Linked DNA regions of Homo sapiens: region 2 is linked to region 1. Evidence: fine-mapped expression QTL. A gene starts in region 1. The other region holds a variant in brackets. All regions are shown on one strand. Distances are from middle to middle. Region 1 holds the start of KCNRG (potassium channel regulator). Region 2 holds the start of DLEU1 (deleted in lymphocytic leukemia 1).

Region 1 (8,581 bases):
TATCCTTTCAAAGCTATAGCATTCAGTTTTGTCTTCAGAAGATACTGTTCTAGTGCTGACCAAATGAAAGCCTTCCTTTAATAAAGTGTCAATCAGTAAGCCGAGGACATTTGTTCCGTTGGCCAATTTTCGGTTATCAGGTTTTATAGAAACATACCTAGGACACACAAAAAGAAGCTTAATTATAAAGCATCCCTTTAATAACTAGCAAAACTATACACATAAATTTGACTTACAACCTCAAAGGCATCATACCTTCTCAAGACAGATTTTTTTTTTGAAATTTCATTTACTTTACAAATCCAAATGAGTGATTTTTTTTTTTTTTCTTTTGAGATGGAGTCTTACTCTGTCACCCAGACTGGTGTGTAGTGGTGTGATCTTGGCTCTCAGCAACCTCTGCCTCCCAGGTTTAGGCTATTCTCTTGCCTCAGCCTCCTAAGCAGGTGGGATTACAGGCGCACACCACCATGCCCGGCTAATTTTTGTATTTTTAGTAAAGATTGAGTTTCACCATGTTGGCCAGGCTGGTCTCAAACTCCTGACCTCAAGTGATCCACCCATCTCGGCCTCCCAAAGTGCTGGGATTACATGCATGAGCCACCGTGCTAGGCTACCAAATCAGTAATCAGGTGCTGAAAATCGAGACCTTGCTGTGATTCTGAAAGTCATTTCAATTCCATATTTAGAAGTAAACCAACACTCATCAATTTTTGAGAGATCACTTTCTAAAGAAAACATTTGATCAAACAAATTGTATTAATTTTTATATAACTATTTCCAATTTTGTTTTGAATTTGCTATTAATTAGTTGATTGAATCAAATATTTTAATGAATGCTGTGCACTTACAATTTCCCCTCCAGATCTAATCTTATCAATTATTAGCACTGACATTATGGATTTTCCTTTGCGACTTACTCCTATGAAATTTACCTTTTTTTAAGTGAAATTTTGCAGATATGAAATGTCAAGATTTTATTGTCACTTTTTACGCAATAACTCTCCATTGTCAAAGAGCACAACTTGGGGTCAAAAGCCTCTGGAGAGTGGAAAGGGCAAAATCTTCTATTCACTGAGGTGCTCCACAGAACAAATGCAGTACACAGAACCAATTCAAGAAAAATGCACATGAGGAGGCGGAGCTTGCAGTGAGCCAAGATGGCGCCATTGCACTCCAGCCTGGGTGACAGAGCGAGACTCCGTCTCAAAAAAAAAAACAAAAGAAAAAAAGAAAAAAATGCACATGAACTTTTCAGATTAGCTATCTGTTGGCTTTAATAATGTCAGCATAGGCTGGGCGTAGTGCCTCATGCCTGTAATCCCAGCATTTTGGGAAGCCGAGGCTGGTGGATCACCTGAGCTCGGGAGTTTGAGACCAGCCTGACCAACATGGTGAAACTCCGTCTCTACTAAAAATACAAAAATTAGCTAGGTGTGGTGGTGCATACCTGTAATCCCAGCTACTCGGGAGGCTGAGGCAGGAGAATCACTTGAACCCCAGAGGCGGAGGTTGTGGTGAGCCGAGATCACGCCATTGCATACCAGCCTGGGCAACAAGAGTGAAACTCCATCTCAATAATAACAATAATGTCAGCATAACACATCTGCATGGATACAGCTTTATGACTCCGTCCTTATCTGCCATCAAAAATGTTTTCATAAAGCTCTTTGTGTCCTCCCACCATTAGTTTATGAGATGTGAAGAAAAAGCTAACTTAGATTAGTTCAGGCAGAAACCTAAACTATCTGTAGTTTTAAGGGATAAAATGATGCTTGGGGACATCCCTAACCTTCTTCTAATGATCATGCTTGAAGTAGAGTGGTTTTTGTAGTTCACATTTAGAAACTCATTCTAAGCAAAGAAACCAATAGTAAAATCTAAGAATTACCAAACTACAAAGCACATCTCAAAAAAAGTTTATTATGTTTGATACAACAGATTCTCAATATTAGCAAATCATTCCACTTACCCCCAAGCGCCAGATCTTGACTGTACAGTCTAAAAACATTTGTCAAAGTGAGAAAAATGTTACAGAACATCTCATAAAAGAATTAAGATACAAATAGTATATACAGATAGTAGATTGTAACAAAGTGGAACGTACTTGCAAGACATCACCTAGCTAAAATACTTGATTCCCTATGAGGACAAACTGAAAAATAAAATATTTCAAGCACACAAAGAAAGGACAAAATAGGGGAAACCAATGGGAAATATAAAGTTTAAACTTATTTTTAACATTTAAAAGCAACTACACTTTTCCATTTGAGCCAGTTCAAAAAGGAGAAGTCAAATAAAGACTTTAGAATCCTGTGACCAACTATAATTTGAGCTTGATAACATGAATGGCATCTGAAAGATGCAAGCCAAGTATTTCTAGTACTGTGACCTTGAGAGATAATAACTGAGCAACCTGCTAGGTTAACCTTGAGGGGTAAATCATATTGATAGAACAAACTGAATAAAGTGAATGATACACCAGACAATTAGGCACCAATTAGGCTCACTTCTCCATTTTCCAAACCTACCAAAAAATATCTGAATAGACAGATAGATTCAGACCAGGGAGTGAGCAAAAAATAAAAATGATTGCTAATTAGGCAATTATATACTAAAAGTGGACCTTTTAAGGCCAGAGTTTTCATCCCAATCACCAGAGATCCCCATAATTTCACCGTATTCAGATTGGCTATCTCTACTTTTAAATTGGCACTGTCTAAAAATTCACAAACATTTATGGAATGGTAAAAATTTTGAGCTTCAAACAATTGAATACCATTTGGTGATGCAAGAAAATGCTAATTTTAAAAATAGCTTCTGATTTTGGAATTATGGAAGTCTAAATATAATGTTTTCTCACTTTAAAATGGAAAAAACTTTCGTGCTGTTTCTAAAACACAACATAAAAAGGGAAAACCATTTGGCACTGTGTACACACAGGAACATCCCAGTTTTAGTTTTTAATCATGTTTTTCAAGGAAACAATTACTTTCTCCAAATGCATGGTTTTTAAAGAGTACTTCGTATTTCCAGGACATCTTCTTTTGACCTAGTGTGTTTCTTCTTAAAAATCAATGACAGTTTTGTCTCTAGGTTTCTGACTTTTTGAAGCATGATCCCCAAAGAGGTCATAATCACTCATATTTTAAAAACCAAAAAAAATTTCATTTTTGTTAAAGTATCCCATCAATGAAAATAAAGTTGTACAGAGGTTTGAGATAAAGATAAGGTATTAGATTTTCTTCACAATCAGCCTACTAGCTTGACTGGCTCTCTTTTCCCAAAATGACATTTCAAACTCTTTTGAAGGACAGGAAGTTATAAAATGTAAACAATTAAGAATTGTCATACTCGGTTATTCTACCTAGTGTCCTCCAGTTGGTAAGCAAGACCAAGGAGTGTGTCGCTAAGAGAGAGAGACACTGGTATCCTTCCTGTTGGCTACTGCTCAAGTTAAGAAAATATCTTAAAATACGCCTACCTTTACCAAAAAAAAAAAAAAAAGTATATTTTAAATGATACCAATAAAGAACACATGCAGGCTTTTCTTTTCCTCCTAAAAATTAAAGCCAGCTTTCACAGTTGGTAAAATAATGGTAGGACAGCATTAAGACATTTTACGGGGGGAAAAATGTTTGTGACAGCAGAGTGGAAATCAGCGTTAGGATCCAGCCAAGAACAACAGAGGGAGTAAGTGAAGAATTGACTCAGGAGCAACTATCCTTAACATACTGACAGCCTATCCCAATATTTTGAGTTGTTTAAGAGCCAAGGCTGTAACAGGATACCAAATTTGCCATGAGATATATCTGTCTTTAAGGGTGTTTAAAAATAAAGTCAGCTGAAGGAAAAACAGTAGTTGAATCATAAAACTGAAAGAACAACTTATATAGTGTGTAAGGAACTCAAGAGAAACCAGTGAGCGAGCCTTTATGTGAACCACTGAAACAATCTCTTAAAAATAAGGCAATTCTTTTCTAAGTCAAATTCATTAGCAATGGAACATAATCTACAAAATTATTTTCTCCCATGATTTGAATGTCCATAGTCTCAGTTTTTTCTGGGCAGTCTTCATTTATTCCTTTTGTCCCACCTAATAATAGCCCCTTTCACTCTAAAAAGTATCCCAGTTTGGAAAATAATTATTTGGTCATTCTACCCAACTCCACTGGTTACCCCAAAACATTATTTTGAATAATCATCTTTTCCAGAAGTTACAGGCCTGAGGAACTTCAAGTTTTTAGAGAAAACATCACAAACTGGTATACAAGAGAAATACTGCAAAGTACAAAATACCTGACTCCAGTTTGGTTATCAGTAGTGCTGTCAGAACCACACTGGAAAACCAGGTCATGGTAAGAAGGTCTTTGTGGAGGCAGTGGAAGTAAGGTCATCTGAGGAGGGAAAAAGTTACCATTCCAGGTCGGCGCTGAAGGTTGTTCTGTAAACACTGTAATCCTCCCTGTTAGCATCTCAATTGTTTTGCTGCAAGAGCCAAACACCCTGAAAAAAGCTTGAGTGTTCCGGCTTAGGAAATGTACCTCCACAAGAGCAGGTCTTGGCTGTAGCAGGTATGGGTTTAAGAGATCAACTAGAGAACGAAGTTCATAGAAAAGAGCCTCTCTCTGAAGCCTAAGATAGTCTGAAAATTCAGTGGGTAATAAAAGCTGGTGAGTTCTCAAAAAATCTAAGATGAAACTAAACAAATCACCATCTCTGTCTACAAAAATCTGGCCACCAACCATCTTGAATTCTTGGTCTCTGCCATCTAACATGCGTGCCAAACGAGAAGCAGGAAACTGCTTTATCGTAGAAAACCTTGTCGTGAATATCTTCCCTCCCACATTCAAAGTGACCAGTTCCTGACTACTCATTCTTCCCTCACTTCAAACTAGAGGCTACCATCAGCCACACTTAGGAAATCAACCTATAACCATAAATGTTGCTAGTTATACATGATTATGCAGTGGAGGGGAGGGAAGAATAACAAAAACCAGACTTAGATTCCCAGGAAACTACTGTAAGGTAAATAGTGTATCCATGGCTGTGTTTGCAAATTCGAGTTGCCTGGGAACTTGCAGTATACAAAATGAAAAAGCAACAGATGAGGAACTAAATAGCTTAAGGAAAACTGCCAATATATCTGAAGATAGACATCAAATAGATCCCTTTCCTGTCTTACATTTAAAAACTTATCCATGAAAACCTAGTAAAACTATATATATATATATATATATATATATATATATATATATATATATATATATATATATTTTTTTTTTTTTTTTTTTTATTACTGGGAGGGGAAAAGCATTCTCCCTCCCCATACCTGTCTACCACGCAGAGGCTAGACTTAAACGTTTTTCTTAATTTCTTATGATCTCCTTAGAAATTTAGTGGCTAAATCATGAATTACATGTTAGGAATGAGACAGCCTGGCAAGCTCAATTTGACTATTCTCATAGCTAGAAGGAAATCATTTCTTCTGTGCTTTAAATTTAGTTGCCACCTTTTATCCTGTCCCCATTTTCATTACCTCCTCTCAACCAAATTAGAGGAGGACTGAGGTAAAGAACTCTTATTTTCAGAAAGTCTATTCCACTTAATGGGCTTTCAAGGAATATCTTACTCTATGACACAAATAAGGCAGACTAGAGAGCAGTTATAAGGTTACTTCTTTGTTATATGAATTCTAAGCAAGGTGTTTATTCCATGAGAGGGTATCTTTATCTCTTGTGAGCAGACAGAACAGCATTAGTGTTCAGCTGATTACTTTGTAATAGCTGACAGACTGTTTTATCTGTTGTCAAATTAGTCTTAACTACACTAAACATTCTTTCTGTAAGCAAGTGGATTGGTTTGGTTGTACACTTGCCATCTTTCGAACAAAACAACACATAGCTGCCAGAAAAAAGGTAGTCTTCCCATTTCCTGCTCTTGCCATGTGTTCTATATATACATATATATGTATATATATGTATGTGTACATATGTGTGTGTGTGTGTGTATATATATATATATATTTTTTTTTTTTTTTTTTTTTTTTTTTTTTTTGGTAGAGACTGGGTCTTGCTATGTTTACGAAGCTGGTTTCGAACTGGAACTCCTAGCCTCAAATAATCCTCCCACATCACTGTCCTAGAATGCTGAGATTATAGACATGAGCCACCCTGCCCAGCCAGCTGATCCTTTTTTTTAACCTATCTATGCTTTTGCTTGCATAGCCACTTAACATTTCTAGTTGATCATCTTTGGTGAAAACTACAAAAACAAAGGAGAAAAGGGCAGATTGAAAGCTCCACTCTCCTAAAAATGTAAACTTATCACAAGAAAATGCCAGGTTTTGTATGTACCATTCACATTTTGGTGATAATTAACTCTCTGTAGAAAATTTTGGAAATCTAATTAATTAGTACCTTCAATACCTTTAGTTGTCTCCCACACACGCGTGTGTGTGTGAAATCTTCTACAATATCTTCCCTTTTTTAGACCATGTTCACTGTCAAAAAGGTGCTTTAAGAGCAGTCTTTGGCTGGGCACGGTGGCTCACACCTGTAATCCCAGCACTTTGGGAGGCCGAGGCAGGCGGATCACGAGGTCAGGAGATCAAGACCATCTTGGCTAACAGGATGGTCTTAAGGGACAGTGAAACCCTGTCTCAACTAAAAATACAAAAAATTAGCTGGGCGTGGTGGCACGCGCCTGTAATCCCAGCTACTCAGGAGGCTAAGGCAGGATAATCACTTGAACCTGGGAGGTAGAGGCTGCAGTGAGCCAAGATTGCATCACTGCACTCCAGCCTGGGCGACAGAGCAAGACTCCATCTCAAAAAAAAAAAAAAAAAAAAAAGTGATCTTTACTGCATGCTTGAAGAACAATCACTACTATACTACCTATACTTCCATCAATACAATATTAGATCATATGATCTCTCACCTATTTTTATCACAGCATAAATACAACCAACATTTGGGGTGGATGCTTATTTCAAAAGCACTCTTTTAAACAAAAAAAGGTTCAGGCCTATACTACTAAATTTCACTTTTATCTTTATGCTACCTAATTTGAACATGTATAGATTATTTTTGGAAGGAATACTTTTGGAGGAAAATATGTGACTAGAATCGTTGACCAAATCTGAATTACCACTCTCTATTCTCTAACAATTTCTAACAAAAGAAAACTGCATACTTGAAACAGATTTTATAATAGTTTATATTTGCACACAAATTCTGCCACATTGTTCAGTACCACCAAAGTAAAATTCTTGAATCTTTCATTGAAAATGAAAAACCCATCTGTCACCTGTTCCCAGTAAAAAACTGATTGTTCTATGAAATCGGCTGTTTTAGTCAGATAGGAACTGAAGTTTGAAAGACAGCCTTTCCAAGTTGCCAGGTCATCAAATAATGACCATTCTAGGAACATGGTAGGACCAAAGACAATGACAAGGCCAAGCAGAAGGATTAGCAAAAATAACTTATAAAAGCTCCAGGGAATCTTGCTAATGAATGTGCCAGTGTCTTGAGGCAAAGAAAGTTTATCCACATCGACTAGTTTTATGTCTTCCCACTGACTGGTATCAAAGTTCTTCATTAAAGGGCTTGCAGGCAAATTAGAGGGAGGTAAAGGAGTTTCCTTGATTACTTTGATTTTCTCTCTAAACTCCTGCATCTGTTGCAGAAATACAATGGGTTCTGACACATCTTTGAAAGCCTCAGCAATGTTAAAGGCCATCCGTTGCTCCTGCAAGATGGTGTTGAGTTTGTTGATCTCTGGGTCATATGCTTGCATAACAGCAAGTTTCATGGTCTCAAAGTCAGACAGAATTTCATTCTTCTTTTGATCCAGTGTGTGTTGTAACTTCTCAAAAAATTCCTTCACTTTATCTGAATCTTTAGTCAGTAACTGTAGGGATTTCCTCTTACTAGTTTCCAAGGTATCCAAGCGAGAAAGAGCATCTCCCCGACGCCAGGTCTCAAAGCTCTGGAAGAGGGACTCAAAGGCATCCCTTTCCTGAGCATAGGCATCTTCAATAGAACAGAAGACATGTTTGGTGTGCTCCCCACGAGTAGCACAGATCCCACAAATCAGCTGCATATCAGTCAGGCAGAAAATGTTGAGAGGCTGCCCCAAGTGTCCTTTGCATACTGGCATTTTGGGAGAGATCTTGATCTTGTTATACTTTTCCACAATACCCTTCAGGGAGTAATTAACCTGCAGGCTATTAATTCCAGTAGCTGAAGTTTCCTTACGGCATGTAGGACACTTGAATGGAGCTGGTCTCCACAAGGAATTCCGCACACTCCCTTCTAAGATACCTTCTAAGCATTTTTTGCAGAAGTTGTGGGAGCAAGGCAAAACCCGTGGATCATCAAACAGACTACAACAAATAGGGCATGTGAGATCTTCTTCAAGCAGCTCCATCACATCCTACCAGAAAAAAAAAAAATTATTTTACTCCAATAACCGTCACCACTAGGACTATGTAATAATTAGAAGAAATCTGCCTTCACGTTAAAATGATTTTTCACTGAAATAACCAGCCAAACAAAGTAGTGAGAAATTTGGTAAGGGA
Region 2 (8,581 bases), 67 kb before region 1:
GCCTTAAAATTACCTTAAACAAATTACCATAAACTTAGTGGCTTAAAACAACAGAAATGTATTATCTTACAGTTCTGGAGGTCAGAAATTCAAAATGGGTCTTAGCGGGCTAAAATAGAGATGTCGGCATGGCTGCATTCCTAAAGAGTCTGTTTTCTTGCCTTTTTCAGCTTCTAGAGCTCATGAACTATTCTTTGGCTCATGGCCTCCTTCCACCTTCAGAGTCAGCAATGGCTTTCTCACATCTCATCATTGACACGGATTCTTCTGCTTCCCCTTTACACACTTAAAGGACCATGTAATTAGGCCTCCTCAGGTGATCCAGAATAATCTATTTTCAGATCATCTGAGTAGCAACCCTAATTTTTATCTGCAACTTGAATTATCTCTCACCGTGTAACATAACATATTCACAAATCCCAGAGAGATTAGGACATGTACATCTTTGGACATCTTTGGTAGGCCATTATTCTGCCTACCATATGTATGAATAATTTTTCCTTTACTTTTCTTCAGGAACTCCATGGACCATCATCCACCTCTGAAACTATATGCAAACTATTCACATACATGCATGATTCTAGAGAAAGGGTCTATAACTTTCAACACATTTTCAAAGTTTAAGAATCACTGAGCTGGGTGCAGTGGCACTTGCCTACAGTCCCTGCTACTTGTAAGGCTGAATGGACGATCACTTGAGTCCAGGAGTTTGAAGCCAGCCTGGGCAATATAGAGAGACCCTGTCTCTTAAAAAAACAAAAATCACTGGACTAGCTGATAGAACACCAATGTTCCTTAAAAGAATAGTTTGGCAGTGTCAACACTGCAAAATTTTAGTTTGACTTTTTGATATGTATATTTTTAACTATAATCATAAAACCTTGATATGGGTTGAAAGTTTTTTTCTTGTATTTTTCCTCTGTGTGTTTTTTATAGACTGTGTATATGGAGAGAGAGAGAAAAAGAAAACTCACCCATGTACAAGAGCAAGCAAATGATATAGATGTTCTTTGAACTCTTTTTAATATTGTAACTTTTTGTAAATTTGAAATTATTTCCAAAAAAAGTTGTATTTTTTAAATTAAGTCCCATCTCAGAGAAACAAGACCAACACGAAAATAAAAGGAAGTTGAAAACCCTGCTAAGCAAAGTTTTTAATACATTCAGTAGTATATACTGTTTTCAAGGTACTGTCTGCATTCTTTCTTTCTTTTTTTTTTCTCGAGACAGAGTCTTGCTCAGTGGCCCAGGCTGGAGTGCAGTGGCGCGATCTCGGCTCACTGCAAGCTCCGCCTCCCAGGTTCATGCCATTCTCCTGCCTCAGCCTCCCGAGTAGCTGGGACTACAGGCGCCTGCCACCACGCTCAGCTAATTTTTTTGTATTTTTAGTAGAGACGGGGTTTCACCATGTTAGCCAGGATGGTCTCGATCTCCTGACCTCGTGATCCGCCTGCCTCGGCCTCCCAAAGTGCTGGGATTACAGGCGTGAGCCACCGCGCCCGGCCTGCATTCTTTCTTGAAAGATGAACAGACCTATAGCTTTCACAGTTTTATCTAAATAAGTTAATATGTTGAAGCCAACATTGCATCAGTTGTAGCTTACTCATTATAAACTTCAGCAGGAGGGAAAAAAAGCATAGAAATTACAAGACCTCTGTTCTTCACACTACCCATATTTAGCATCCATTAGCTGGTGATTGCATTTCAGTTTCCAAGAGCAAAACCCCAGATTTTAAATTATGACTTCAGTTCTACTCTTATTGACAAGTAAAGAGGGGTATGCAGAGACACAAACTAACTGTGAGTGGAAAGGGGTGGGGGAGGGATGATTAACTCTTGACTGTATTGAAGAAAGCAAGCTGACACTTCTGCCCTAATTGAGCACCTAAGTAATTGAGTTCTTTCTTCTTATAAAGTACATTACTTTGTAGGGTATTAAAGTTCCAGGCAGGAATTCTTACTAGTTTTAACCCACGAATTTGATGGTCTAAAGTAAAAGCACTTTTCCCGTTTTTCCTTTGAAATTTAACTCAGGAATTTGCACCCCCTTGTGGTCAAATATAAAATTCTTAGTTTTCAAAAGACCGTTTTTTACAATCGGGCTCTCTGTTCAGGCATAGGAACTACTGTATGTTAGTTGATTTTGTTTTCTCCCATTTTAGCAAATCAAGAAGCTTTCATGAAAGATTTTTTCTTAAATAAGACTTTAAACACAATTAGACTTAAATCTTCTAAAAGTGACTTACACATAAACTTTAGTCTCTGCAAAATAGAGATAATTGCACCCACTTAATGAGTTACATGATGATTCGATGGAAAAATGCATGTACATGCTTAGCCCAGTGTCTGACACATATTAGGTCTTCAATAAATGTTATCATTTATCATCATCACTTTAGAATTCTCTTGACATATTATATCTAAAAGGGGACTAAGATAAAAAATTCTACAGTGAGGAAACCAGATTGTGCTACTTACCTATTTGTAAGTTCTAGTACAATTTTACACATGTCTCCCAAATATACCACTTATCCAGACCCCCCCTAGCTGATTGTCCCCACAGGTACATTATATTTTTAAAGTACAAACAATATGTGGTTATCCCTGAATGCTAGAAATTTGGATGATTTTTACTTTATATATATTTTAGATGGGCCTCGGTTTTTTAACCTTAACAATCAGAAAAAGCAATAAATCTATTCCATTTCCAGGTATTATTCTTATGAGATGGTAAAATAAATTAACATCCTTATTTGCCTAACAGGGATCATTATTCATATTTGGGAAAAATCATTTGTCAGTTTGATTTATCATTTTAAGGAGCTCTTGAATAAGAATGCTAACCCCGCCCAGCGCGGTGGCTCACGCCTATAATCCCAGCACTTTGGGAGGCAAAGGCAGACAGATCACGAGGTCAGGAGTTGGAGACCAGCCTGACCAACATGGTGAAACCCCGTCTCTACTAAAAATACAAAAATTAGCCGGGCGTGGTGGCGCGCACCTGTAATCCCAGCTACATGGGAGGCTGAGGCAGGAGAACTGCTTGAACCCGGGAGGCAGAGGTTGCAGTGATCCAACCAGCCTGGGCAACAGAGTGAGGCTCCCTCTCAGAAAAAAAAAGAAAAAAAATGCTGACCCCTAAAGGCACTAACTGTAGTTTGATTTTTGAACAACCATTAAAGAAGCCAGTTTAAAAGATCAATGACTGACTGACAATAACAAACATTTACTAATATGCCAAGCACTGTTGAAATTCCTTTAATATGTTAGCTCATTTACATCCTTACAACAGTCCAATGAGGTATTAATAGTACTTGTTTTACAAAAGGTCCAACAGATAATTTACCCAACAAGGCACAGCTAGTAAGTAGTGGAGCTGGGATTCACCCAGGCAGCTCGGTTCCAGAGTCGACCCACTTAAGTAGTGCAAAAAAGTACCAGAGATTAAGTAGTGTATTTATACTACTCTGCCACGTTACTTCTTGCTGATCTCAAATTGCTAAAATCCATTTCTTTTCCAAGACACTTAAATAATGCAAACCATGCTACCCTTCTCCCACTTCCTTATTAGTACTTCAGGCACTTTCATATCTACTCTCTTATTTAACATTCACAATGAAGGTTTTAAAATATTTACAACTTTATAGGGCTCCACGCGGTGGCTCACGCCTGTAATCCCAACACTTTGGGAGGCCGAGGCGGGCGGATCGCGAGGTCAAGAGATCGAGACCCTTCTGGCCAACATGGTGAAACCCCGTCTCTATTAAAAGTACAAAAATTAGCTGGGCGTGGTGGCACTTGCCTGTAGTCCCAGCTACTCGGGAGGCTGAGGCAGGAGAATTGCTTGAACCCGGGAGGCGGAGGCTGCAGTGAGCCGAGATCGCGCCACTGCACTCCAGCCTGGCGACAGAGCGAGGCTCCGTCTCAAAAAAAAAAAAAAATTACAACTTTATTATCGTTAATTGTCCTATCAGAGTGCCCATTTTTTTTGAAGGTAGACAGGTTTGCCTAGATATGGTGCTTCTACTTACCAGTTCTAAGACTTTGGGGCAGATTTCTTAATCTGAACCTCAGGTGTCCTCATCTGTAAAGTGAAGATAATACCTACTTCATAAGGCTGTTGTGAGCAATAAACACGATTAATTCGTAAATCATTTATTTAGCACAGTGCCCAGCACACAGTACACAGTCAATACGTGGTAGCTGTCAGTATACCAACGTGTTGCACAACAGAAACTCGTCTTTGCTGGATTCAGTTCACTTATCACGCCATTAAAAAAAAAA[AT/T]CATCCTAAGTGACACAGAAAAACTGCCCATTCCTATCTCAAAAAGTTTATGAACAAGTTAAGACGGTAAGAGAAACTGAATTCAATGAAAGCGCCTTCGCAACAGGCAGCTTAGGACCGGGAAGAAGGGCTTCAGCAAACTTAATCATTAACTCTAGGCAGGCGCGCGCGCACACACACACACACCGTTGAAGAAGGAGACCACGCCTCCTGTGTGGGCTCAGGTTGAATCGTACAGCGTGGTAGAGAACTCCAGGGCTGCTGAATCTGACAGATGTGGATTCATCCACTTCTGTGCCACCTGTGCTGTCTTGGGCAAATTACTTAACGTCTCTGAGCCTAGGTTTCCTGGTCTTCAAAACGAGAACAGTAATAGTTCCTACCTGGTAAAGTTGTTCCGAGGCTTAAGTGCGATAACCCCTGTAAAGCGCTGGAGAACGGCAAAAGCTCTACAAGCCGGCAGGGCGGTTTTAAATGCACGTGTATCCATATACAAGGTCTCATTGATACATTCCGTTGTTTGGAGTTTAGACACTGGCTGTAAGACGTTTTTCTTTTCTCCTAAGCAGGACCCGTATTTGTTTACCTCCAACGTAGACTAAATGCCTGTGGGCTGGTAGCTATAAGACGACCCCTCGGCCCCACAACCTCTAAGTTCACTTCACCTCCGCGGCTTTGCAAAAGCGCTACACGCACGCGCAAGAAGCAAGAGGACTGCAACCGAAGAAGCAAAGGGAGAGCCGTGCACCACGATGATTCTGCGCATGTGCCTGGCGGGAGGAGGGGGGAGGGTTGGAGTTTGCGCATGCGTAAAAATGTCGGGAAAGCAAGAGAAGGGGGGTTAAGAGGCGGTATTGACAGCTGTGGAGGCAGCCCGCGTTCCCGGCATTCCCTGGGGCGGCGGGGTTGGCTCTAACGAATTTGAATGAGGAGCCTCAGCGCTTTCGGCGCCATTTTCGAGTGATGCCTGATCTCATCAATCTAGCGGGAGAGACAGGATAACCTGTCCGAGAGTATAGCGCCACTATGACTCCGCCGGAAAAATTACTTTAAAAATCGCCAAAAATTACTTGGAGCAAAGGGCAGTCGGCGGAGCTTCGCCAAGGCTGGCGCAGTCGGTAAGAGCCTGAAGAAGTAGCAGAGCGGGACTCGGGAGGTGGCAGTGGTGGGACCCGCAGGCAGTGGTGGGTGCAGGGAGTGGGCGCGGGGTCTACTCTCACTTAATCGCGAAAAATCCGAGGAAGTAGGGTTAGGGGCAACTTGGGCGTCTGCGAGTGGGCGGCGGCGGGCGGAATGTGGCGGGAGCGCGGAGAGACGGGGCTGTGGGGGGAGGGGAGCTGCAGTTTGAGCGGGACGCGGACCGGCTGCGGCGGAGCAGCCGCCGCCCAGCGGATCTGTCAGCAAGACCCCCCGCCCGGGACCGGAGCCGGGGACGGCGCACTGCGGGGTCTCTGCAGGCGGCCGCTCCTTGACAGGAGGACTGGACGCGCGCCCCTCCCCCATTTCCGAACCGGGCCGCCTTTTCTCGCCGTTTTCTCGACCCGGTGATGGCCGTCATCTCGTGACAAGAAACTTAAGGTCGACAGAAAATTCAGGACCCGGAGTCATGGGTCCCTCCGGTGGGTCGTGGCAACAGTCCCCCCCGCCACCGCCCGGCACCCATCTATCTATATTGTCTTTTGACGCTGAAGCGTGAGGTGCCCCAGGAAAGAGTTTCCCAAGCCCTGGCTGCCCTCCCCCGGCGCGCTGGGTCCCGGTGAGGTCTCTAGGTAGGTAGGACTGGCCGCGGCTCGCGCTTCCAAGATGGGGCAGGGGCAGGCTTTTGAGGTTGTAGCGGGCTCTTAGGAAAGATGCTGGACTTTAGCTTCTTTCTGGGGATTTTTGTCATTTGCTCTCGCAGCGTTGTCCTTTCTCAAAGGGGAGGAGTGTTCACGGGTGAGATGAAAGATGGGGCTTCGAGCTAACGATTTCCTTCTCGTGGCTATTTCCTCCGAGTCGCACTTTCTTAGAAGACTTTTTTCTTCTCCGGTGTTTGAAACATGTCGCAAGGAAAAAAGCAATCTGTGAAACTATTAATGTTTTCCTCCCCCAAAAGTCTTTACCCGGACAACTTAACGGTAATTTTGCGATCCCCACCTTTTCTTGACGCTGAGGAGGAGGGACGAGAGTTGTTATTTGTCTTTCCCTTCGGTGATTTTTTTTTTCCCCCTTAGCTGGTGGTTTCTATCAATTCTTACTCCACAGCTCTTGAGTGATGTGAGCCAGTGACGGCATTAACTTTAGGTAATACTTCTATGGCCTTTGTAAAAATCCCGCGTTAAGGATGTATTAGATCTTGAGTTCTTTTCCGCGCTGGAGGCACCACTAGATTAACCCTTTGCCGGTGTATTGCGTGTGGGGCGCACGGCTCTGGGTTGCAAATATTCCGGAGATGCTTTCTGCAGCAGCTATTCTGTTCAGTTGTTCGCAAAGAGGAATAACGCTTCCTGGGAACCGCGGTGACACGCTTCTTTAGGACTGCCTGCCTACAGAGTTTTTCCCCGTGGAATTGATGTAACGATTGATTTATTTCTTATATTCTATGAAGACTGGGGGACCCGCCCTCGCTTAGAATGTTTCCCGGAGGAGAATAGAAGAGTGCAATGTGATGTTTTTCAAATTGTGTCTAACGGAGCTCCCTAAACTCTGGACTTGTTACCCCCTGATTGGCTGGAAGGAAGCGGGCCTGGGGGGTTTGAATGTTGAACGCTAAACTATAATTCTCGACTTTACGAAAAAATATACTTTTAGCCAGAGAACCACGGAAATAGCTACGAAACGTTAGGACGAGAGTTTAGAAAAAAAGTTGGTTTTTAATAGTTTTTTTTCCTCTCAGAAAGGATTTTCGTGTGGTTCTCAAATGTATATTAAAAGTAAAACTGAAGAGGCTGTTTTCGCAAAATTATGTTTCTGCTGGTTGAAATTAACAAGACTTTTATATATTTGTCACTGTTCTTTATTGGTTAAAAACTGAGTGAAAAATTTAGTTTTTTTCCTTTGATAGGAATTTTTCACCTTAAACTACATATATTTGTTGGATGCAGATTACCGGACAGTTGTTTCTTTTATTTTGATGCAAAGAAACTAATTTTCTTAAGGTTCACGAATGATCTTTTTAACATTTTCCATAAAAATTGAACATCTTATTTAAAAAACTTTTCGCATCTAGTGAAAATATACATTTTGCTAATTCAGTAACTGCAGTGAACTAAAACTTTAATTTACAAAACATTTATGTTTCTTAATTTAGACAACAGGTAAGCACAGGTGCGTATCTATTATTTAGTTCCTTTGATAAATTCATTATGAAGAAATATATTGTATACAACAGTGTGGGTGTGCTGTTTTTTATCTGGTTGATTTTCAGTTGATTTTTGTTCGATGTTGCCTGAGACAGCCTCAGTATATTTCCATTTATTACCGAGCTTGTCATTCCATTTAATTGCATCTTGATAAAAGGCAGGTGTCGTTTTCAAAGAACAGCGGCAAACTAACTGATAAACAGCTGTAGATGCTTTGAGAAACAATTGTTTTAATTTAATAGACGTTTATATTCTTTTATGAATAGTAGTTAAATTTTGAAGCTTATAGTGTGTATGTTCGCATTAAGTCAAATACGCATTGTTAAAAAATATTCAAATAAAAAATCTTATGGCTTTTATAAATCTCTGTAGGGCTGTAAATATAATTTACATTAGTAAGTGGAATAGCTGAGTTTATAATTCATACTATTTTGTACTGCCCTCATAACAAGAATTGTGATAACAGATCCCTTTTCATTACCTTTGTTCAAAGCTATTTATTTTGGGTCATCTTATGAAAATTTCATAGAAGGTGCTAATTATCTTCTCTATAAAATTTGATTTAATGAAATTTTAGGAGATCTCATTTCTATTTTAAACGTAATTATACCTAAAGTACCAGAACTCCTGGGTTTTGCTTTTTACTGATGGTTTTTGTTTTGAGTTTTGTATTCTCATTCAAATTACGTGAGTTTTGGGAAGAGTTGGGGGCAAGCTTTAAATTCCACCAGGCTGGTTAAGTATAACCATACATTTTTAGCACTTTGGTTTATGGGATTTTTTGTTTGTTTAGGGGGTAATGGGTAAAGGATTGTTTGTTTAATAAGCCATTTTTAAAAGAAGTGATTCCTTTATTTAAAATACATCACTTCAAATTTGAGAATACACTAGCGCCTAAATAAAATCCACAGCATTCAAAATATTTTCACTTTTATGTGATGCTATATAAGAGGAA

What was found.
Region 2: its variant is fine-mapped to the expression of KCNRG in whole blood (TOPMed, PIP above 0.99).

What each region holds. Positions count from the first base shown.
Region 1 is chr13:50,011,790-50,020,370 of GRCh38, reverse strand. KCNRG (potassium channel regulator) reads right to left here and starts at 4,927. Exons shown (of 2, transcript NM_173605.2): 1 at 4,300-4,927; 2 at 1-157. The coding sequence starts at 4,877. It overlaps TRIM13 (tripartite motif containing 13), which reads right to left. Exons shown (of 2, transcript NM_213590.3): 2 at 1,904-8,436. The coding sequence starts at 8,430. The coding sequence ends at 7,207. The region is part of intron 10 of DLEU2 (deleted in lymphocytic leukemia 2); the gene reads left to right.
Region 2 is chr13:50,078,645-50,087,225 of GRCh38, reverse strand. The region is part of intron 1 of DLEU2 (deleted in lymphocytic leukemia 2); the gene reads left to right. It overlaps DLEU1 (deleted in lymphocytic leukemia 1), which reads right to left and starts at 5,057. Exons shown (of 7, transcript NR_109974.1): 1 at 4,669-5,057; 2 at 4,032-4,084. RefSeq lists enhancers at 4,133-4,928, 6,546-6,605 and silencers at 5,086-5,135, 5,536-5,755, 5,619-5,913. The variant AT/T (reference allele first, on the strand shown) is at 4,285.